Homo sapiens: one gene and its partner. The protein of the gene in region 2 interacts with the protein of the main gene of each other region in a pairwise test. Each region holds a gene or a part of one and is shown on either strand. Other genes may lie near its edges.

Region 1 (11,803 bases), on a different chromosome or scaffold from region 2:
AGATTAAAAGACAAGAAAGGAAAAATCAACATAACAGCGACGTTAGTCCCAGGCAAAGATAGACCTTTATTAGAGAGGAAAAGTACTTGAAGCCCCTTTTCCAAACTATAAACGAAATACAAATGCTAGCCTAAATTACCAACGACAGCAACAAAAGCAAGAAGAAAGATTTCAAGGGTACATGCCACAGCTAATAAGGTTAGACAGCTTTTCTGGAAGGAGGAACAAAATGGATCATCTTGAAAACTAGAGAAATGAACTTATTACTTTGGATGACAAAGGCAGCTTTTCCTGCCTTTATCCAACATCCAAATCATATTGATGCATCAATTCAATATGATATATAATTATATATAATATATTCAGGTAAATAGGGAAGATATAAGGATTCATTTTTATTTCCTCAAAAACAGACATTTAATTTTCTGAAAACATACTAGGAGCACAATACTTATGTGGGCAAAGCGCATATGTGGGCAACTTCCCAAAAAAGTTAATATAAGTTGTAAACCCAAGGAAAAAACATTTCACCTTACTGGTAACTTCTTTGAATGAGTGAAGTTTTACACCACTATGTTTAATGAGAATACCCAGTATGGCAAGGGTTTGGTTAAAAAAAAACAAAATAAAAACATACAAAACTGCTTTGGAACACACACAGTAAAGGCAGGATTGAACAACTTGGAGTCAGAAAGACCTAGGTTCGAATCAGCACTCTGTCACATGTGGCCCTGAACAAGCTTCTCAAGCATCACGACTCAGTTTCATGCATAAAATGATGAGTGATGGTACCTACCTCCCTTGCTAAACATTTAAAGAGGCCACACACGAATAGCACTTTACAAAGAACCCAGCTAAGAATCAGCACTCAATAAAGGACAGATACCATCAGGGCTCAGGAGCCAGCCCTCTGGGGACCTCCCCCAAGGAGCAGGAAGAACCAACCCACTAAGCAGCAAGAGTCTAGCCAGAATTTCCTCATCTCCTCAGGAAAAGAAAAAAAAAAACTCAGATCTCGATGCTTCCTCTTTAAGGATCATTTTTAACTGCAGGTTCTGGCCAGGGACCTCCACTTCAATTCAAAAGGAGCACCCTGAAGAAATGGCAGAAGTTGAGATGGGAACACGACCAGGCCAAGCAGGGCAGCCCCTCAGTGATCCAAGACCACCACCTGCAGCAAACACTGCAAGGCCAGAAATCTGCTCTGCTCTTTTCTCCAGCAATGGGATCAATTACACCCTCAGAGGGGCTGGTCTGGGGGCTAAATGCCAGTCCTCACCTGCTCCACACTATTGCTGCCATAGCTCAGCAAGAGACAGCCAAGACCCCAAGGCAGAGGGACAAGTCCATCCCTGCTTGAAACAACAGCCTGGAGGAAAAGCAGCCCATTCTGCCTCCTGAGGGCGATCCCCTAGCTGGTGGGCACACTGTGCATCCTCCCATGCAGGAAAGAGCACAGGGCTATGGGTCCTTCTCCTCGTTTCTTGGGGGACAAAGCACTCAGGACCCCATCCCTTGGGCCTCCAGGGAAAGCAAGGCTCCAGAGGCACAGTTGTCTGAATGGGTAACAGGAAAGAGTTCTTGGATCACTAACTGCTCTGCCAGTGGAGTTTAACCCCAAAACATTCACTGGTTCCAGCACAAGTTTCAAAATCAAACCACTGAGTGCCCAAATAATTAAATGGATCACGTTATCTCACCTCACCCTTGCCATCGCACAGAAGGGGGCTACGCCCATTGTGAGCAACTGTTCTTTGGCAGGGGAAGAGAGACAAAGGTAGGAGGGAAATGAATTACAAAAGGGAAAACAAGCCTATTTGGAGATTTCAAGCAAGACTGGGTCCTAAGGATTAGTTCACTAACCTACTCAGAAGGCTGACACTGCCTGCTACCTAGAGTCTGCAATAATGCCTTGAAATGTTATTAGCAGGGCTTCCCCCTCCCAGAGGCCACAGCCTTTACTGGGCCCAGGTCCTTCCTTTCAAGTCTCTCTCATCACAAAGGCCCTCTCACCCCTTCAATTCCAAAGGCACTGGATATCCCTCAGCCTCTCAGCCCCTCAACCTCTCGATGTGCCTTCAGGTACTCTGCTTTCCCCTTGCTAACCCTTAGCTAACTCACCCTTTCTACCTCTGCTGACATAGAATTCCCTCCCTCCCCACAAAAACCTGCCCTCCCCCAAAAACAAATTTTGTCCCCTACTGTACACGAAACCCTGTACTTCTCCTTGGCAGCACCTTGCCAGGTTTGCTTAAAGGGCTTCCTTCTTGATGGACTGTAAGCTCCATGAAGGCAGGGACCACTCTGAGATTACCTACTATAACCCTAGCCCAAATATTTCAATACCCCAACAATACCCCAACCTGACTTTCCAACTTCACCTCCCTCCCCAAGTACTTCAGCCTCCAGCCATACCCCTCAAGGTTCCAAAATCGCCATGCTTTTACTACCACTGCTCTATAAAAAACCCAGGTCACCTCTCAAGGCTCTGCTAAAGGCCAACTGCCCCAGGAAATCTTTCCCAATCTCCCAGCAATACACATGCCTCTCACCTTCACCCTGGTGGAAATAATCAAGCAAGAGAGCCACAAGGACCTACCTTCTAATCAGATTCCCACTAACTAGGGGAGTGAGCTTGGACAAGTCATTAAGCTGGAGCCTCATTGCCCAGATAATAAATTTGAACTCCTGGAAAGGATAATGTAAACCACCTAACGGAACCTGGCATATAGTATGCCCAGAGCTCTCGCCCACCATCCCGCTACACCCTAATTAATGATTTGTTGCTAAGTCATCTGTCTTGCCCTTAGACTGTGTACCCCTGGGGGGCATTTCCTTATGTAGGCTCCACCACCCCTAGTCCTCTGAAGTGAAATCAGCCTCGTAAAACAGCAACAACAGCATCACCTAACACAAACTGAATGATCAGTGTTTAGTGTGTATGTTTAGATAGTGCTTAATTCCTAGTATGTACAGGCAATCCCATTTTTTTTTCTTCATCTTAAAGTTCAGGGGTCCATGTGCAGGATCAATGAATCCCATTTTTAATATACCCATGCAGAACACACATGCAATAAAATATATACATACACACATGCATCTCAAAATTCTTAGTGTAATTTTAAGCTTTAAAAACAACAAAATTATAAAAGCAACAGACTTAACATCATCTGGAAGTTCAATTATTTAAATTTCTTTTACACTCAGTTGATCAATTTTGAATGCAAAAGTTTTGATTTCACATCTTTTAGTCCCTCTCATTAGAAATGAAAAATGCTAAAATTCCCCAAACAGAATCTGGGGAAATTTCAGAAGTTACGTTCACTTTAGCTACTAGAGGAATGTTTTCATTTTCTTTCTATGGCAAAGTGTTCAATCTGGAGGCAGTAACCAGTGGATTCTAGGCCTGTAGCTCTCCCAACCCTGAGTGCTGTGCAGGTGGCTGGCAGCAGTGGCTGCTATCAAATTTTGTCTCTCTTTTGTAAACTGCACCACACAAGAGCCATCTTCTGCCTTGGCTTGCTTCTCACCAACACAGAACTGTTCTCCATGGTGTGGAGGAGACATAAAGTATTTCAGGAACTGTACTACCTTCTTACTGCCGACAGTCACAGACAGGTACAACCAATATAAATGAGCTCTTCATCCTGTCCTTTAACCACCCAAATGCAGTGTTAAAACATTCTTCTGGTCCTTCCACCATCCTGTACCTGCAGGATGCTTGTATAGATTACCCCACCTACTCGAATCTCTGTTAGTTCTGTTATTTCATGTCAGGTGACCTTTAAAAGCTTGAAAATCTGTGTCATGCATTAGCTCTCCTGGGTGAAAGCTGCTTATGTTCCAGTCTGCCAGAAGCATGGTTCTCAGTAAGCTAGGCTATTCTTCAACTGCCACGCTCTCAACAAATTTCAGATAATATTGGAGATTAACAAATGCAAAAAGACTTGCAGATGACTTATAAATTATAAAGCCACTCCAAAAATGCTTTTGTTAGCTAAGATTTTCAAACCGTACAGTACTTAATGTTTGGAATAACTCATCAAAAAGGCTGAAATTGTGCTCACTAGAATGATCAACAACCCGAGGAGACAAAAAACAACTCAATAAAAACTTAATGAATTTATTTCCTATCAGTCTTGTCAGGTTGCATTTTGAATTCTATCCACAGCATGTGATGAAAGTACCCAAACCATAATGTAATCTTATGTACTACATCAAGGATCTAGTCAGCATAATTTTCTGGGATCTGGTGTGAAAGCACACTCCTTTGTGTCTACAATCCTTCCGCAGGAAGGGCCTTTCCCCAACGCAATCAATCAATCAATCCATCAATCAATCATCAGTCCAGAAAAGCCTAATTGCTCACCCATCACCAGTTCTGATTATAATTAGTGTTCTATAATCATGGAGCAGGAAGCACAAGATGGGAAAGGAGGGGGGCCACCGAGGTCCTCCGAGGCACTTGGTAATCACGATCAGCCGTTTTATACCAATAGCCTAGAAGCCAAACACACAACTGCTCGCTCTGGTTAAATTCTGTTAAACCAGTACTAATAAGAATGGAAGTACAAAGCTTGAAACAATGATTTCTTATCCTAAAAACAGATTCTGCATGAGCAGAAAAGCAGGGATAAGCAGAGTGAAGTGTTTGAGAGTGAGAAGCATTATGCGGATGGCTAGAAAGAAAACCTCAATCGAGAATGACTCGCAATAGCCTTAAACCTGCTGCTGAAAATGCCCCCTGATGCATATTTATTAGGTCTGTCATCCAAGAGGCTTGTATGCCACAGTATTTCCAGCCATCATTAATAGGCATTAATGACCACAGCCTTTCAACGCCACTGTGGCGCACTGCAATGCAGCTCCGAGCAGCTGGTGGAATCAGAACAGATGGCCTGCTTCCCTTCAAGGCAGGACTTTCTGCAGGTGACAACATGACTGCTAGGTGACTGACAAAAAGAAAAACAAACAAAAGTTGAAACTGGAATATCTGATGTCAGTAAAGCACATGTTTAGTTTCTCAGGGAAACTTTGACTTGGGCCCTAAAGGTTGGTAGGATTGTTTACAAAACTGCAGTTGTGCTACAGAAGCAGAGTGCTCCTTCCAAGTCCAGAAACATTCACTAAGCCCTGGCCACATCTCCATGTGGGGTGGCAAACTAGGGTGTGCCACAGAAATCCATTTCTCCAAGAGGCTCAGTGAGTACCTAACATGCACCAGAAAGGGAAGCCCAGCATTCCAAGGAGGGGGGAAGTCAAGGTTCCTACCCTCAAGGGGCAATACGCTCTGGTGGAATTCAATGGCCACTCTGGGCACATGGCAAGCAGCACAGAGGGCAGAACCACGTTTTTGTCCAGGGATACTTAACTATCTGCCCTTGTATTTGTTTACACTTCTATTTTTCCCTTCAGTAAATTGCTTATATACGTTGCCTCTTAACGGGATACTTGGAATCTTCTGATTGAAAGAGCAGAACCCACTCAAGGTGGCTTAAACAGAAAAAAAAGTAAGTAAAAACCGAAAGAAGTGGGGACTCTCAAAGGACACAGGACTATTTTCTCGGAAAAGCTTTTCCTGATTATTTTGTCCAAAAGGATCCCCCACTACCTTATCCCTAGCATTTCACCCTGCCAATTCACCCCCCCCCTGCCCACCCAATAACTCTCTTCCTCCTTATCCTGCTTTAGTTTCCTCCCAGCAGTCTCTGAAGTTCCATTTTTTATCTACTCCTTTGCTTGCTCACCTCTCTCAAAAAAAGGTAAGCTCCAAGCAGGCAGGAAGGGCAGCTGTCTGTCTTGTTTGCTGGTGTAGCCCAGGGCTGGGAGCAGTGCTGGTCCTCAGTCAGTATCTTGAGTCACTGAATGAATGGTCAATCACACGAAACTAGGTCTCAGGAGGTACCCGAACCAGGAACTAGAAGCAAGACAGCTGCCCTCTAGCTCACACTCCATTCTCTCTCTGCCTTGTTGGGCTGCAGCCTCAGTTTCTCCTTCCAACTCCACTGTGCCTTCCAACTCCACTCTGCAAAGAGCAGAGGGCTTTCTTCACTCCCATCTCATACTAGCAAAACCCTGAGACAGTCTCCTGTGCTCTTAGGGTAAAGTCCAAACCCCTTCCAATATCTTATAAGCCCTTCATGATATCCCCCCATCATCATCCCTCACAATGTTTCATTCAATCATTCTTTCCTAGCCATAAAGAGTGTTTCTCTGTTCCTCAAAGTAGCTGCACGTTTTCATCTCTAGGTTGCAGAATACTCCAAACCTTCTTCGGAAAGCACTCCTTCCCTCTTATCTCCATCGTGGTCATCCCCATCTCATCCTGGCACATGGCTAGGGGACCCTGCTAACACATCCACCATCCCAGCCTTCAGGTCTTCCAGCTAGGCTGTCAGTGCTGCAGCAGCAGGGACCATGACTGTCTTGTTCATCTGCGTATCCCTTAGTGCAATCCACAGCATCTGACAAGTGGCAGATGCTCAAATATTTGGGGAATAAATAAATGAACCATGTATCAGTAACGGTTATTCACAAAGAGGCTGGGACAAAAATAAGAGAGCAGTTCACCAGGAAAAGGAATGTGTCTGCCTTGTCCTAGCTGTATTCCTCATGCCTGGAAGAGTAGACAGCCAATAAATATTTGCTGAATGCATACATTCCTGGCTTGCCTGATGTAACTCCACCCCTTTCTCTCCCACTTGAGAAAACACATCAGAATGCAAAAGGGTGAAAAATGACATTATTAACATGACATATCTGAATCATTTGAAAGATCCACACTTTATTACTTGTCATAAATTACTGGCCACATACCCTCAAGACTGATCATCACATATGAGGTACTTGAGACAGTGGTTGAGAACAGGTGATTTAGACAAAGCTAAGAAATATGAAGCACTTTCTGCTCTTATTATTTTATTTTCCAGAAGATGAAGGTGACAATAAGCTCAGTAAGAACTAATAACTGAATTATTCTAACCTTTACTTTTCTTTTTATAAAATAGATTTCTGCACACCCCAGGAGAAACGTTTAATTAAATCAAAAGACATTATAAATTCCTTTTCACAGTTATTTTTCTCCCATACCAATGAGGTCTACCAAGTTGCTGTTGTCTCCATTCAAAAGCCAACCTACAACCCCATATACCTACTTTCAGGAAGGCCACACTGCAAGCCCTGCACAGCAGATATAAAACCAGTGCTCCAATGTGACAATATTGGTCTTCCTCAAATATAGCAACGGCTATTTTGTTTTGTTTTGGTCCTTTGTGCATAAGTATTTTATCTTTTCGATAAAATGTTTGGTAAAATTACTGAACCTGAATCAAGCCTGTTTTACTTTCATTTATACACAGCATCCCCAAATATTGATCACAGGATGAAACACAACCAGAAATGAAAAGACCTAATGAAGCTTTCAGTCTTGGTGTGTTAAAGAGAGAAATAAATAAATCTGAGAAAGCCAGACCAGAAACCACACAGCAACACAGACAGCCACATATTCCAAACAAGGCTAAAGTTAGTAAAGGAAAATATAGCAACTCAAAGCCAGTAACACCGTAACCCTTAATAGCCCACAGAATTAGACACTCCATCCACACAAACAGATCTGAGCTCTTCAGATCACCCCACATGCTGAGCTACAGTAAAGATTTTGTTTTATAAATTTTTTTAAAGTTCAAAGACCTTTTAGTCTATAAAAGATACTAATGTTTGATGTCTTTGGGCCCAAATTAGAGTGGAGGATGAGAAAAGGAAAAGTGTTAGGGTATATTTGAAGGTTTCTTATTGCCACCAAAGGGTGGAGTAGTCAAGGCAAAGTGCTGAGGTTACAGCAACAACAAAAAGCATACAGAAAGTGGGACCTGCTTTTAAAAAAAAAAAAAAGACCATAAACTCTACAAGCTACTATACCCCTCTTTGTCTTACCTAACAAAACACTGAATCATCCAAAGGAAATGAGGCAGGTATCTACCTCCTTTTGTAGAGCTTATCAATTTCTACTAAAATACTTCATTTTTCAGTCATATTTAGTCATATTTATAAATTTTCATTTGTAGAGGTTCTTACCCTCTTTTTGTGCCAAGAATCCCTTTGGCAGTTTGATGACATGTAATGAGCCCTTCTCAGACTAATGTTTTTAAACATACAAAATAAAATACAAAGGATTACAATTGGAATCACTTATACTTAAATATCAAAAGTCTTAAATTGCTATACACATGTGCACTTCTGTAATAATGCATTAAATAACAAAATCTAGCAGCAAGTCTTTTTGTTGCCTACACTCATAAGTGAATGAAAATGCTAAACTGCAGTTTGAATATCATGAAAATCAAGACATGTTTTTCCCCCATCTAAGTTCAAGAATGTCCCGAACTCCATCTGTGGACCCTAGGTTAAGAACCCTTGGTTGAGAGAGCCAATAAAAATACATTTTGTGAAGCATCAAAAGAAAAAAAAAAAGTCTTGCAAAATGCATTATCCATTCAACTGTGAGGTGAGAGGAACTAAGAGAGTAAGCAATATTTTTCCAAAAACCACCATGGGCCATTAGTCAGCAAGAGAGCCACATGCTTCAAATTGAATCCAGAAAGGATGCTTTGAGGAACTGACAGCGCTGCTGGAATCTGTCTTAAAGTGAGGAAAGGGTAGAGTAGGGGAGTACAGCCACCCAGCTCAGCCCAGATCAACTATGAACTTGAACCTCTCTTGTTCTGGGAGCCTGTGTCCTCAAGAATAAAATATAAGGGCTAAACATATACCATGACCATTAGGCCCCCTTCCAGTCCTAATTTTTTTTTATTATACTTTAAGGCTGGAATACATGTGCAGAATGTGCAGGTTTGTTACATAGGTACATACGTGCCATAGTGGTTTGCTGCACCCATCAACCCATCATCTACATTAGGAATTTCCCCTAATGCTATTCAGTTCTAAATTTTTATCATGAGATCATCTCCTCTTTATGCTGGTTATTTCAGTCTATTTAGCTAAATTTCAAAACATCACTGTCTTTCTTAAACTTGGAACATAAAGTTTTACACAATTTAAATGCTCCCATGGGTAACCTAACACCAATGAGTCAAACAGATGTATATCATTACAACTTTTTTAAACATTCTGTTTTTACGCACATCTTCATAAAAAACAACCACAGCATTGATCTTTTCTGCTATTAAAACAACTGTCAGGGAACTTAGAATATGTAACTAAATAGTTTCTACATTTGCGCCAATGAACAGAATTACTGAGCACAGACCAGGAAGGGCTCTTGAAGCCTACCTAATCCAATCATATTTTGCAAATTGATAAAGAAACAGAGAGGAGGAGGAGGAATTAAGCCAAAGTCACAGAGCCAGTCAGCAAGAGAGAAGGGCTTATTCAGGTCACCCACCTGTAAATGCATGTTCTTCCCACTATACCAAACTGCCTCTCAAATCCTGAGCCACTTCCCTAACCTTAAAACGTAAGTTTAAAATTATAGCAAAAAGACCTGCTGGTTAGACCAGTCATTTTTCTCTACCTTCAGTTAAGTAGTGGACACAACAAAGAGTTGTGGCTATGATACATTAACTGGCTGGAATCATGAAATAATTAAATTCCACTAATCAGCCCAGAAAGTGATGAGCTCACTAAAATCCTAGCTATGTGGAATCTCTTAATAATACTGTGTAACACACAAAAAGATATAGAAGTATTTAGATATGGATATAGACATCTATCAGCTCTTCATTCTGCTCTCCAGGATTTCCTAGTAATGTTTCACTATGACATTCGAAAGTGAGCAAAAAGGACAGTCACATAACCATTAAAAAAAAAAAAAGCACTGAATTTGACAAGCAAAGCTTCTATCAATACCAAATATTAGGCATTTTTAGATCTCAGGAATCATCTCATTATTCAGAAAATCTACTTGAAATTTTCTGTTTTCCAATATTTATACCCCAGAGGACATAAAGATAATATCATAAAGATGATATTAATTCTATGTGAATGTTATTGTTGTTTTAAGATGAAGTACACTGTCTCAAATCCTAAGGGTGGAATATGAATAAGGTTCTCTCTAAAAATCTTCCTACCTAGTCACTCTTTCACCTGCACTCTTCAATGTGTTCAACATTGGTAAACAGTCAGAAACCTACCCTCGAAAAAAGAAAAATACCACAATTCAAGTATTCAAAAACCAGACTAGCATCCTCTACTCACATTTCACCTCCTCAGAGAGAACTTCCCTCACCTTCCAGCCGAAGAAACCAATACCCACCTAAGCAGTCACTCTCCAAGTTTATCAACTCCTCTTCAGAACTTGGCTGCACCTGAAATTGTCACTTATTACTCCTCTATTTGCATGTTTCTTTCTGTTTATGCCTGTCACTCCACTCTAAAAGGAAAGTTCCCTGTTCTCACTGCATCAGCAATGCCTAAACAGCACAGGCACAGAGTAGGTACACAAACGACGGTTGAGTGTCTCGCCCCCTAAGTGCCAACTATGTCATACTTTGGTCTCCTGGAAAAGCATTAGCAAAGGGCAGACCATATGCAACTGCAACGTTATATCCCGGGCTCCTGTGGAGTGAGACTATGATACTAGGACAATCCAGGGTTTCAATCCTTTCCGTGGCTTCGGAATGCCCTGCACTTCCAGCTATGAACACAAAACCTCTCCAGGCCCACTCGCTGCTTTTCTGAAACATCTCAACAATGATTTCCTCAAAAGGAAATAATGAAATAAAGTTCTGGCATACGTTAATCTTCCGCGTCAAGTTCACAGTGTTAAACACACTGAAGCCAGCCACACAAACAAAACCAAACTCCACAAGATTAGGTTGGGCTGAAGTTACATAAGACAGACTAAACTGCGGCTTTTCTCCTGTCATTCCTCCCGCCTTCCTGTGAACCCTGATATTTGTCTTTGAAGTGCAATTAAGATGTAGGTGAGAAAAACACTTATCTGCAAACAGCTTCAAAATAGGTAATGAGATTTCCAATACCACCCCCACTTAATGCACTAGCAACAAAGTCAGGAAGACTGGGAAGCTTTGAGTTGTGCGGTGTCTGGAAGCTTCCCTCAAAAACTCCTCTCTTTAAATTATTTTTAAGTCAGCACTTACTTCAAGGCACTCACTTATCAAAACACGTTTTGCAAAGTTCCCTGAGTCTTCCCACAGCCATGACTCCTCATATGTGTGCTAAGCCTACCTATCAGCGCCGAGGATGTTCTGAATACAGGTCTTTCAACGCAGAAGGACAAAAGCGCGGGTTCCCAGAGCGACACATCCAAAGGAAAAAATAATCCTTTCTTCAACACTAAACCCAAGTTGTTCCTTCCCCCCAGTTTCCTGCACTTCCCCCTTCCCCCTCCCCTTTCACTGCCCACTATATCCAGTTTTAAGCCCGCAAAGCCTCTCTCCTGGCTTATTAAGGGTAAACAATAGAAATGTCACAAGGAAACTCAGGAAGTAGATGAAGTCTCTAATTGCTGCCGTTTAACGATTGTACATAATTACTATCTTCAAGATGCGGCTTTCACCAGCAGAGAGGGAGCCGAGGCGGGCGAGGCTGGCGAGCTCCCCGCAGCCGGGAGGGCATCAGCGAGGCCGGGACCGGGGGGATACGGCCCGCGCCCCGGTGCCAGGCCCCGAGCAGCCGCATCCTGTCCCTCCCCTCCAGAGCACTCCAAGCGGGGAGAAGCGGAGGGCCGGCCGGCCCGGGTCACACACAGTTCACTGCTCTCGGGCTGCGGCGGCCCGCGGCGGTCATCGGAACAATTTGCAAAGCGCAGCCGGGGATCCCACAG
Region 2 (11,803 bases):
TTCGTTGATGTTTTCCTTTTTGTATTCATTGTTTTAAAAATATTGTGACCAACCATTATCCTCGAGAGAAAGTGAACTTAACATGGGACACCAGGTGGTACAGTAGAGCGGAGTGGATGGCTGGAGATGCTGGTGATTACTTCAACATATCCCCTTCATCTATTCCCAGAGGTTTTCTTTTCTTTTAATTGAGATATAACTTACGTATAAAATTTATCATTTTAAAGTATACAATTCAGTGATTTTTAGTATAGTCACAAAGTTGTACAACTATTACAACTATCTAATTCCAGAACATTTCATACCCTCAAAATGAAATGCAGGACCCATTAACAGTCACTCCCCATCTACTCCTGAGTTTGCAAGCAGACAGTTCCCATGCTTGGCTTCTGGAGGAGTCTCTTTGCCTGAGAGCATTCTCTGGAATTTGGTCTACATCCAGGCAGGCTGGACATGGCAAGGAATTAATACCTCAGATTTCTAACCTCAACCAGTGAGGGATGGAAAGTGGTGGATAATATTCCCAGCTACCTTGTCCTTCAGTGTAATAATTCAGAGATGTTTTCTGTACCATGTCTCAGAGGGTCCCCAGCAGGATTGGGTCCCAGTTGCCCATAGTGGTGACTCTTTCGATCTGTCTCAGTTCCTCAGTCTTCCGCGGGATTTCCTGAAATCACTTCCCAAATAAACTACCTGCACCCAAATCCTTATCCTATAGTCTACATTTGGGAAAACCCACCTACGATTCTTTTCAACAAGACTATCATGAGGTCTTTGTCAAGCACCTTGCTGAAATTCTGACATACTATACCTCTCATGCTTTTAAAAAGACAAATGAGGCCGGGCGCAGTGGCTCACGCCTGTCATCCCAGCACTTTGGGAGGCCAAGGTGGGCGGATCATGAGGTCAGGAGATCGAGACCATCCTGGCTAATATGGTGAAACCCCGTCTCTACTAAAAATACAAAAAAATTAGCCAGGCATGGTGGCAGGTGCCTGTAGTCCCAGCTACTCGGGAAGCTGAGGCAGGAGAATGGCTTGAACCTGGGAGGTGAAGCTTGCAGTGAGCTGAGATCACGCCACTGCACTCAAGCCTGAGCAACAGAGTGAGACTCTTGTCTCAAAAAAAAAAAAAAAAGACAAACGAGTTTAGTCTGCCGTATCATGTGATCACATGCCACTATGTGCAGCTAATTTTTAAATTTTTTGTAGAGATGGGGTCTTGCGATATTGGCCAGGCTCGTTTTGACTTACTGGCCTCAAGCGATCCCCCTGCCTGGAACTCCCAAAGCGTTGTAATTACAGTCATGAGACACCGCGACTGGCCCTGCCATACCTGATTTCTTACTAGGGAGATCCATGCTGGCTCCTGGTGGTTATGTTTCTTTTCCAAGTGCTCATGAAAATCCATTTAATAAGCTGTTAGTTAATTTGACAGTAAGCCCATTGTTATTTTACAAAACTATAAAGGATTTTCCAAGTTCCATTTTGCTTTGTCTAACAGTGGTTTTTTAATCTGTAAAAGTTAAAGGATGTATTATAGGCAAAAAAGAGAGGAAGTTATACTTCATATAATGTAAGAGATTGAGTACTGTTCACATCAATTCATGTTTTACAATAGGCAATAACAGCTACACGCTTACTTGATGAAGGAGCTGATGACACAATCCAAAAGACACCACAGTCCCCCACAAAAGCCTCCAAACCAGTTGTCACCAACCCACTCACCTCTATTCAAGACAGAGGTCATTACCTTTAAGTATAATATTTCCCCTTTTTCCTAAGCAGTTTTGAAAATGGTTTTGTCAAAATATTATTGTCTAAATACTACTGTTTTGTCTAAATGTGAAATATCATTTTGCTGAAATAGCTTTTCTTTCTGGAAGACTGGCTTACATGACAATTTATGATTTGAATATCTAGTGGCAAAGCTTTGGAACATAGGCATTTACACATAAGCAGAGGGAAATCATTAATGCCAAACTTTTGCAACCAATATATATCTAAAAGCACCAAGGGCTTAAAATTTGAGCATCTCTATAAATCTCTTTCAGTTAATCAGAATGGAAATAATGAATAGCAAAGGCTTTATCAAATAAGATTACACAGTCAAGGTAGGGCAGTATTTTTCTTATGCTGAGTTTTATAAGACATAAGCAAATTATCATTTAAACATTTATTTAATATAGGTTAAAATGTAATACATAAAGAGAAAAAATGAACACAAATGTCAAACAGAAGAAAACCCTTTATATTTTATTTTGGTCAACAAAAAGTCTGTGCATAACTCAGCAGCAGGCCTGAATTAAATTAAACCAAAGCTGCATTGTGATGGCCATCAATGTACAGACTGCCTGTCTGGCTTAGCACATCAAAAGTCTAATCAAGGCTCAAACCACCATCCTTAGAAATCCAATATATATATATATGAAAAAGGCTTTCTTTCTCAGTTAAATTAGATAAGTCTTAAAGTTGGGAAACTACTAAAAACAATAAAAATTTAAAACTGTATTTTGCTAAAGGGTATAGAGTAAATAACAACAACAACAACAACAACAAAAATGACAAACCAGAAACACTAAAATGTGTTTACATGTGAAAGAATCATCACGTTGATTTACGTCAAAGAACATCATATTTGTTTATCTTAATGCTTGGCATAGTTGGTTTTAAGGTTTTAGAAATATTTTTGAATTTATTATTAAACAATAGGAACGTACTGTACAGAATATTTCAAAACTGCTACCAAGAAAACAAGTACAAATTCTACCTAGCAATATAGGTTTCTTATCAACATACCTTTTTTCCTCACTGGTTTCAAACTGACAAAGGTGTAGGGAGAAAATAATTGAATGGTTTCTGAAGGCCACACTAGCCCTTTAGCCAAGAGTTCTGCTTCTGAATTACATAGAACATCTTGGTCCACAGACAATGGAATGGATTTTTGGAGAGAGTGTCAATTTAGGGCTAAAGAAATACAGGGTGAGAATGAAGCCCTCAACAAAAGCTCCAAAAGGGCACAGAAACTGGTAAGTGACCTAAATATGGAGAGACAGGTGAGGAGAAAATACATAGTAAATGCTGGCTCGTTATTGCATTTTATTCTCTCCCTTCTCTCATCCATTCATCTTCTTAAGACTGCCTTCTGTGTCCTTTTGCAGGGAAATTATCTTACCCTTTAACATTTGTTCCTTCACTATTTTAACAAAAAGCCTATAAGAAAAATAATAAATTCAAGGCTATTACTAAAAGCTTGAATAAAAATAACAACAAGCCCTATGCTCCAATCAGTAAACTCGTTTCTTGGAATAAAATCTTCATTTGTGGAAATGGAATGATGTCTCTTAGTAGACAGTGTTCATTTAGGGTGTGATACTCTCACTTTTAGAAGCAGGAAAAATTACTAAATATTAATATGTGAAAAGTAAGGACTTTCCTTCTGAGGGATTATTGCTTTATGGACTTGACTTTGTTTATCCTTATAGTATATCACTGCCTTACATAACTGTGGATATGATGCCCAGTTTCTAATGATTTGTCCAAAATCGTCTGAGAAAACCAGGCCAATACAAATATAGTGAAAACCTCTTGAAAATACAATTATTATAGACCCACATAAATAAAGTCTAATCTGAAGTCTGATAGCTGATTTTATGTTGAATATACGTCTTTTAAAAAGTGTTCTTATTGAACATAAAATGTAAAATAACATTCTGGAAACAAGTATAAATATTACATTTATTCTGAGTCCAGATACTTTCTAAACTGTAGAAGTGCAGGATGGATTTGACTTATCCATTAGTAATACAGACTCATGAAAAGTTATGCTGCAAAAAATGCTGAACCTCCTCTGATAAATGATCTTTAAGATGGAGAGACTGAGGAAGCTAAGTGAATGTTCATGTTCACTGCTGTAAATTTTCCTTATAATTGGTAAAAAGGCTACCCATAATAGAATTCACATTTTCAATGAATTTATAGTTTATCATCAAATAGAGTAAATGAATTAAGATTTCATTTTTAAAAATAAAGAGACATATTTATTTGTAATAACTCTCTTTTTTTGGTAATAACTATCTTTAACAATGCTATTATTTATTTTTACCCATGGGGAATGCATAAGTACAAACATTGTTAGCTTATTTAACATTTATTAAAAATACAGACTCTTTATACTAATGCAGAAGGATAAGCCTCTTCTTCCCACTCTAAAAATCTCTTCTTTGCTGTAAAGAATTCTCAGTGCATGTGAGCTAAGACTCTGGAGCACTCAGTAGAGAGGTGTGTGGGATGACCAGACAGAATCACTAGGTTTTCTCTGTTTTCAACTAGCTGAAAATAGGAACTCTAGTTCTAAATATTCAAAGTCTAAATATTAGAAAAATAAGGAGAGGGGATATGACAAAATGCTTTTCAAAATACATGCCTGAGGTGAGACTGCTTGTATGTTTGCATGTGGTAGCTTCCAGAGGAAATCTTCAGTTTTAATCTTCAGGTTCATATCTGGAGATATAAATTAAGAACACAATGTCAGGATACCTTTTGTTGTTGTTATTACCAAATAAGTTTACTTGAAGCAGTGGCACTATATTTCTCACTTCAAATTACTGTTACGGTAGAAGTTGGACACATTCAACTTTGTTTTGATGGTGACTCAGAGGGGATTTTTACATCAGGTAGGAGGATAGGCCAGATCACTGCTAAGGCTCCAAGTCTGTATATTTGGCATTTAGACCTGTGATAACTTCATATAATTACCTCAATCATCATGTTGACAAGAACAGTTGATACGACTATATGAGTAAAGGGCTAGCAAATCTACTTCTCTAAGGACAAATCTCACCTTGAATTCCCTTTCTAGCTCTGCTCCCCTGGAACTCTGATAAAGGTAAAATGTCAACTCAGTTTCCAGGCAAAACATCTGATGACCACATCTGGACCTGGAGGACTATGAATGAACTATAAATACATGGTGGGAGCCACCACTTTAGGTTTCCCCCTGTGCGATGAGTTCTTTTAACTGGACATACCCTTAACTGGGTATCATGTGACTGCTAAGAGAGATACTAATCCTATGTAGAACACGGACTTCTAAGCCAAGCTGGCTATGACACCCATCTGCATGAATCTCATTCTCTCCAACTTAAACTGTCATTTAGGGGAACAGTAAGACCAGTTCTTGGACTGCTTAGAGTATACCACCAAGGAGAAGAGAACTACCTAATGCTGCCCTGCGAGCTTGCTGTGTTTCCTGTCTGACATCCTGCTAAGTGAATCCATTGCCAAGAGCAGCTTACTGTAGGCCTGTGTGAGTCTAAAGGCCTAGATGAACCTAAAAAGAAGCCCTGGTGGGCATTATAGATAAGGTCAGGCCAGAGCTCCTCCACTTTCCTCAAATGAAGGCTTCTGGACTAAATGATCCAGCAACTACCACCGGCTTGACCTCTCTGGAACAAGCTTAGATTTAACAGAGAACAAACATCAATCCAGAGAGAGAAATCCAAAGGCGGGATCAGTGTGGCTTACTGTGCCAGTCTTTTCCTCAGATCTTTGATTTGGTCATTCTTCTTGGTAAGAATCTCTTTCATGTTTCGATAAGCTGCTGTTTGCTGAAATTTCTTTTCTAATTCCTGCTTAGTAAAAAATGTCAGCCCATTACTAAAAAAATAGTTAAGGAAAGAGATAACAAATGCGATAAAAATATGTAGTTTTTTTTGCTTGAATTTTACTAGTATTTTGCTAATGATTTTCTAATTTCCTTAAAGGACACATTTATATAAAACTAAGACTATCCAAACTTTAAAAATATATTCTTTCAAATGAGAAGCCATAAAATAGTAACATTTTCCCAAGTACAGTGTTGGTAAATAACTCAAGCCCTGGATATGATAAATCTATTTGAAATATTAAACTAATTTTCCTGTAAAATAAGCACACTTTTTTCCCAAGTCCCATAGTAGTGTATTTTAGCAAAATGATTTTTAATTTAGTTAAATTTTAGCTCCCATATTCTTTTTTCCCATTTTTTATATGAAAAAATTTTTAATTTTTTTATAGAGATGGGGGTCTTGCTATGTTGGCCAGGCTGGTCTTGAACTCCTGGGCTCAAGCAATCCTGCCATCTTGGCCTCCCAAAGTGCTGGGATTACAGGCACAAGCCACTGCACCCGGCCTCAACTCCCATATTCTTAAGAGTCTAATCCCCAAAGTGAAGAATCTAGCTCTCTACATATTTTATATAAATTATGACAAAAGTATAGAAGTCCTTAAAAAAAACAGTCCCTCATCCCTCTGCAGGCTGTGGGAAGAAGGAGCAGAAGAGCAACATGGTGGGATGTAGGGCAGGATTCAAGCCACCTACAGAGGAGCATTTCACTACACCATAGAGGGAGAGGAGATGTCTTATTATCACAGATATTTTAGTACCAAAGATGGAAGAATATCAGTGCCCGGAAATGATTAATCTTTAGAACATATTGGCTAATACCTTGAGAAAAAATAATCTGAATTTGCAGTTGTCCAACGTTTATCTTAGCCACATGTATTCCTCTATACTGTGTGCATTAATCATGCATTAACAGACAAATCCCTTAAACATGGTCTTCTGACCTTTTCAGCCATGTGCAGCTGCTCCTGAACCCTGAGTAGATCGTGCTTGGCTGTCGCCAGATTCTCCTCCAGTGACTTCTGGTTTTCTGTCTTGTCATTAAGTGTCTTCTGAAACTCACTCTTTAAGGCAGCGACAGTGTTTTCTAAGTTACTTAAGTCTTGGGCCTTTATAAAATCCTATGAAAAATAAATGCATGCATGTAATTTCATGTTGATATTCTAAAAATAACTGTTTTAGAATGGTGATTCAACATCATAGGAGATGAAAAAAATGATGTATGTTTTGTGTGCATGCCAGCCTCCCTTGCCAGCCTAGGTAAGTGCCAGCCCCTTCAGAGTCACCAGCAGGCCAGTCCATTGTCAGCCCTGGGTACGTGGTGTCTTGCACACAGCCGACACTCAGTAGCCACTGAATTCCAAATACATAAAATATGATTTGTGAACTGCTGGTATTTCCATCCAAGATGTGTGTACCAGGGTTGAGATGGCAAACAGGTTTCATTTTGAAAAGCCAAATTTAAAAAAATCCTCAAAGAAGTTTGAATTCTTCAAAATGATAGAAAAAATGATAAAAGTAATATAATTTATACCAAAAACTTAATAGACATATGTTTTAGTCATTATTTACAAGGAAATAATATGAGAGCACAATTACTGATTACATGGTTTTCTAAATTTTTAAGATTTTAAGTTTTTTATATTCATGAGATATGTGTAATTTTTGCATACTTTGACAACTATAGCATAAGACAGGCACTGGATCTTCTCTCTTCCTGGATCTTGTTTTTGACTGGATAAGATTCATGACAGAAAAAACATTTGTACTGATAAGACAGTAAAATGGTCTACAATTGGTTAATATGTAGATGAAGAAATACTTAGTACTTTCAAGTGGCTCTCACGCCTGTAATTCCAATACTTTAGGAGGCCAAGGGAGGAGGACTACTTGAGCCCAGGAAATTGAGACCAGCCTGGGCAACAGAGCAAGACCCCGTCTCTACAAAAAATATAAAAAATTAGCCAGGCATGGTGGCACATGCCTGTGGTCCCAACCACTTGGGAGGCTGAGGTGGGAGGATCGCTTGAGCCGGTGAGGTCAAGGTTGTAGTGAGCCATGGTTGCACCACCGCACTCCAGCATGGGAAACAGAATAAGGCCCTGTCTCAAAAGAAAAAAAAAAAAAAAAAAAAAAAGTACTTTCAACAGAAGAAAAAAAAAATCTTTCCTCATTTTTGAAATCTGGTCTTTGAAAAAAAGATTTTCATTGCAACTAATAAAAGCACGTATTCACTGGTTGTTCTTGTGTCCAAAATCTTAAAGTAAAATTGGAGCAAAGCCCCAAAAAGCTTTTAAACAAATTCATCAGCCACATGTGTTTGCAATTGTTTGACTTAGGAGAAATTATAAAGCGGTTCTGGAACATTCGTGTTTTTATAAATCTATTGTCATTGGCATATAATGGTTGAAAATCATTAGCTATATAAGAAGTATCCTCCTATTTTAAAAATATCTACAGATAAAATGGTTCAACGTCTGAGATTTGCTTCAAAAAAACATGGCTGGTGGGAAGAAGAAAGTAGAGGTACAAATGAAACCAGACTGGCCATGCATTGGTAACTGCTAAATAGAGTGAAGAGTGCATGGGGGTTCATTATACTATTCTCTCTACTTTTGTGTATGTTTGAAATTTTTCATAGAGAAAAGATTAGCAAAAGCCCAGTGAAGCAGATTTTGGGTTTGTTTACCAGACATTTGCAATGAGAGTATGACCACTAGAAAAGCCAATGCTGTACTGAATATCTACCCAAATGGTCCTGCTCACAGGAAATCATACTGCAGCATGCACACTCAACAGAAAGTCCACAGGAGACAGACTGTACATACAATGACTTCCCGCAGGCGGAGTGACATTCAGTCATTACATTCAGACAAGCATGAAGAACTACAACACTGGATTTCATTGTACTCTATGGTGCCGGCGGGTACAGACGCATCTGCAGATTCATAATCATTTTGTCACACTCATCAAAGGCAAACTTAAGTAATGTTCAGTATAATAAAACCCAAATATAAACCAATTAAAAACTTTTCTTTTCATTTTCTTTCCCCTCCACTGTAATTGGATGTCAAAGTGAGAGGGGAAACTTAAAAAAAAAAAGTGAGAATATCTTGCATACCAGGAAGATTGTAGAAAAACTTAAAAAATAAATGTGAGAATATCTTGCATGCCAGGGAAACTGCAGGTGTGTGAGCTATGTACTGTCCCCTCTGCCCTAGAGGATGGACAGAGGGAAGGTCACTGGTTCTCACCAGGCCTTTTGGGGGCAAGAATGTCCCAACACATGACAATAGAGGCATTTGTCTCAGGGAGTAGCAGGGGTGGGGTACAGTGAGCAGTAACTAAGACTTAATTTTAAGTTTATAACTTCATTCTACTTAGAAAATGTGAGAAAGGTAGCTAAAACTTGTTTCACCTTTTGATTTCCTTGATCAAGCTGTAAATCTTGCAGTGCTTTTTCTAGTTTTGACTTTTCATCCAGTGCATTTGTAGCCTATAGTGAAGTTTAAACAAAACACTTTCAGTATTTAATCTGTAGGCAGTTCAATAATTGTGTCAAAACATTTCTCAGTTACCTGTATTTCAATGGTCTTCAACCTTGACTTCAATTTCTCATTCTCTTCTTGAAGTCTTAAAATTTCCTTTGTGAGTAAATTCAAATTTTATTATATTAACCAAAATATTTTAATATTTGAAATTATTACTTGTTTCACTTAAAAATCTAATTTTTAAATTTAAATTACATAATAGCTCAAAAATGTACTACTGATATTTTGGTAATATCCCAATTTCATCCAGCCTATCAGCCTCAGTATCTGTGAGTCAGCTTTGGATCTAAGACATCTAGTTTCTTTTCTTTCAGTTTCTCAGACACATCTTCCCTCTTTCAGTCCTCTGTTTTCTGTTTTCAAATTTTTTTCCAAAGACCCGCTTCCCTGCCAACTTTCTCCTAGCTGGTCCTGCAAATCCTGGGTCTATTCTCAGCCTACACTGCACACTGTTGCCCCTTATCCTGAGAACTCCTTCACTTCAGTACCATGCTCAAGCCCACAGATGCTTCTGACTGAGGTGAGGCCAAACACTTTTGTTCTTATACAGCTCAAACATTTGAATCATCTGTGTTATTTTTCAGTAGACTCAAATAAACACATCAGCCCAGTCAGAGGGCACTGCACTCTGTTTCAAGTCATGCCGCCTCCTGTCTGACCACTGCCTGTTCTGTTCTCCTGCCCAACACACTCACTTCTCTTTCCTCTACAATTTAACTGGTCTTCATCCTTCAAGGCCCAGCTTAGGTACCCCTTTACCCAAGAGCCTGTTCTCACCTACTGTTATCCACACACAACTGAGTCTTCTCTGCTACCCAGTATGACACCTGTAGCACACAGGAGAATATTCTCTGGTCTCTATTTCTAGAACATCAGTTCTACTTTCCCAATAAAACTATTACATTTTTGGCCGGGCACGGTGGCTCACACCTGTAATCCCAGCACTTTGGAAGGCCGAGGCGGGCGTATCACAAGATCAGGAGATCAAGACCAACCTGGCTAACATGGTGAAACCCCATCTCTACTAAAAATACAAAAAATTAGCCGGGCGTGGTGGCAGGCGCTACTCGGAGGCTGAGGCAGGAGAATGGCGTGAACCCGGGAGGTGGAGCTTGGAGTGAGCCTAGATCACGCCACCGCACTCCAGCCTGGGCGACAGAGCAAGACTCTGTCTCAAAAAAACAAACCAACAAACAACAATAAAAAACCCAAACTATTACATTTTTGAGGGCAAGGGAGCAGGTATTACACTGCTTTTTATTTCTAACAACATCTAGCATAATGTTGAGAATACAAGGGTCATGAAAAATAGCTGAAATCTGAAATGCTTCAACATCAGAAACTTTCTGAGTGCTGACATGATGCTCAAAGAAACTGCTCATTGGAGCATTTCAGATTTCAGATTTTTGGATTTGGGATGCTCAACTGGGGTCTGTATAATGCAAATATTCAAAAATCTGAAATCCAAAACACTTCTAGTCCCAAGGATAAGGGATACTCAACCTGTGCTGATAAATAATTTTTTTTTTTTTTTGAGATGGAGTCTCGCTCTGTCGCCCAGGCTAGAGTGCAGTGGCGTGATCTCAGCTCACTGCAACCTCTACCTCCCGGGTTCAAGCAATTCTCCTGCCTCAGCCTCCCGAGTAGCTCTGACTATAGGCACGTACCACCACACCCGGCTAATTGATAAATAATTTTTATAAACTTAAAAACCCTTCTCCTTGTTACCGCAGATCACAAACTTTAAATGTCCATCAATAAACGCTGTCCAAAATTTCATGCTCTTCACTTTACCTTGAAAAGGTGTGATCAGGAGCTACTTCAGGCTCTCTAGAAGGTTAAGTATGCCCTCTTCTGGCCCATGGGGTACCATCAAGTAAAACTACTGCAATGGACTAATTATCCTCAGAGGACCTGAAACAAACCTTCCACTTCTGTTTCTCCACCCTAGGCAATGACAGGACAGAATGAGAGACTTTCCGTTTCTCAAAATAATAATATTACCTTGTTTAGGAGTTCTGCTGTTCCACCTTCATTAAGTGGAGCAAGTTTTGGCTTTGTGACATCTAAGATGGGCTGAAACAAAATAAAGAAACCAAACTGAAATCACCACAGAATAAAGCATGTATAATCATTGAACACTTGCACTTTGCAAGTGGAAGATACTATATATAAACATATTCACTGCGATGTCAGTTCCACAGGTGTGGAGATTTCTGTTGGTTTCATCCTTTGTTACTCCCAGTGCCTAGGATATGCCTGTCCTACAGTGCCCCATACATGTTAGAGACAAAAATAAAACCTATCTTCCCTGTATCTTTTAAAAATATATAGATAGAAGGAAAATGAGGGAAGAAAGGAGGGACGGAAGGAGCTCAAAGCCAGATCTGATATAGAGCCTAGCATCTAGCAACTAGAATTTTAGCCTGTGGGAGCTGAAACAGTGATTTCTACATGAACCTTAGACTCTGTGAAAAACAATAATATTGATGAAGATCTAGGCAAGTATAATACAGATAAACAATAACTTGGCACAAATAATATAGTAGTTTAGTAATATATATTAAAAATAAAATAATTCATGCCCT

What was found.
Region 1: the proteins of LZTFL1 (region 2) and PELI2 interact in binary tests that used the Homo sapiens proteins (3 or more experiments, as listed by UniProt).

Annotation. Positions count from the first base shown.
Region 1 is NC_000014.9:56,119,265-56,131,067, reverse strand, and holds part of PELI2 (E3 ubiquitin-protein ligase pellino homolog 2), read right to left. Parts: intron 11,333-11,803; exon of another isoform or gene 11,206-11,332; intron 1-11,205. UniProt on the Homo sapiens protein: E3 ubiquitin ligase catalyzing the covalent attachment of ubiquitin moieties onto substrate proteins. Involved in the TLR and IL-1 signaling pathways via interaction with the complex containing IRAK kinases and TRAF6.
Region 2 is NC_000003.12:45,821,831-45,833,633, forward strand, and holds the end of LZTFL1 (leucine zipper transcription factor-like protein 1), read right to left. Parts: intron 11,292-11,803; coding exon 11,220-11,291; intron 9,309-11,219; coding exon 9,243-9,308; intron 9,161-9,242; coding exon 9,083-9,160; intron 6,786-9,082; coding exon 6,609-6,785; intron 5,630-6,608; coding exon 5,526-5,629; intron 4,503-5,525; coding exon 4,484-4,502; 3' UTR 1,486-4,483; downstream 1-1,485. UniProt on the Homo sapiens protein: Regulates ciliary localization of the BBSome complex. Together with the BBSome complex, controls SMO ciliary trafficking and contributes to the sonic hedgehog (SHH) pathway regulation. May play a role in neurite outgrowth. May have tumor suppressor function.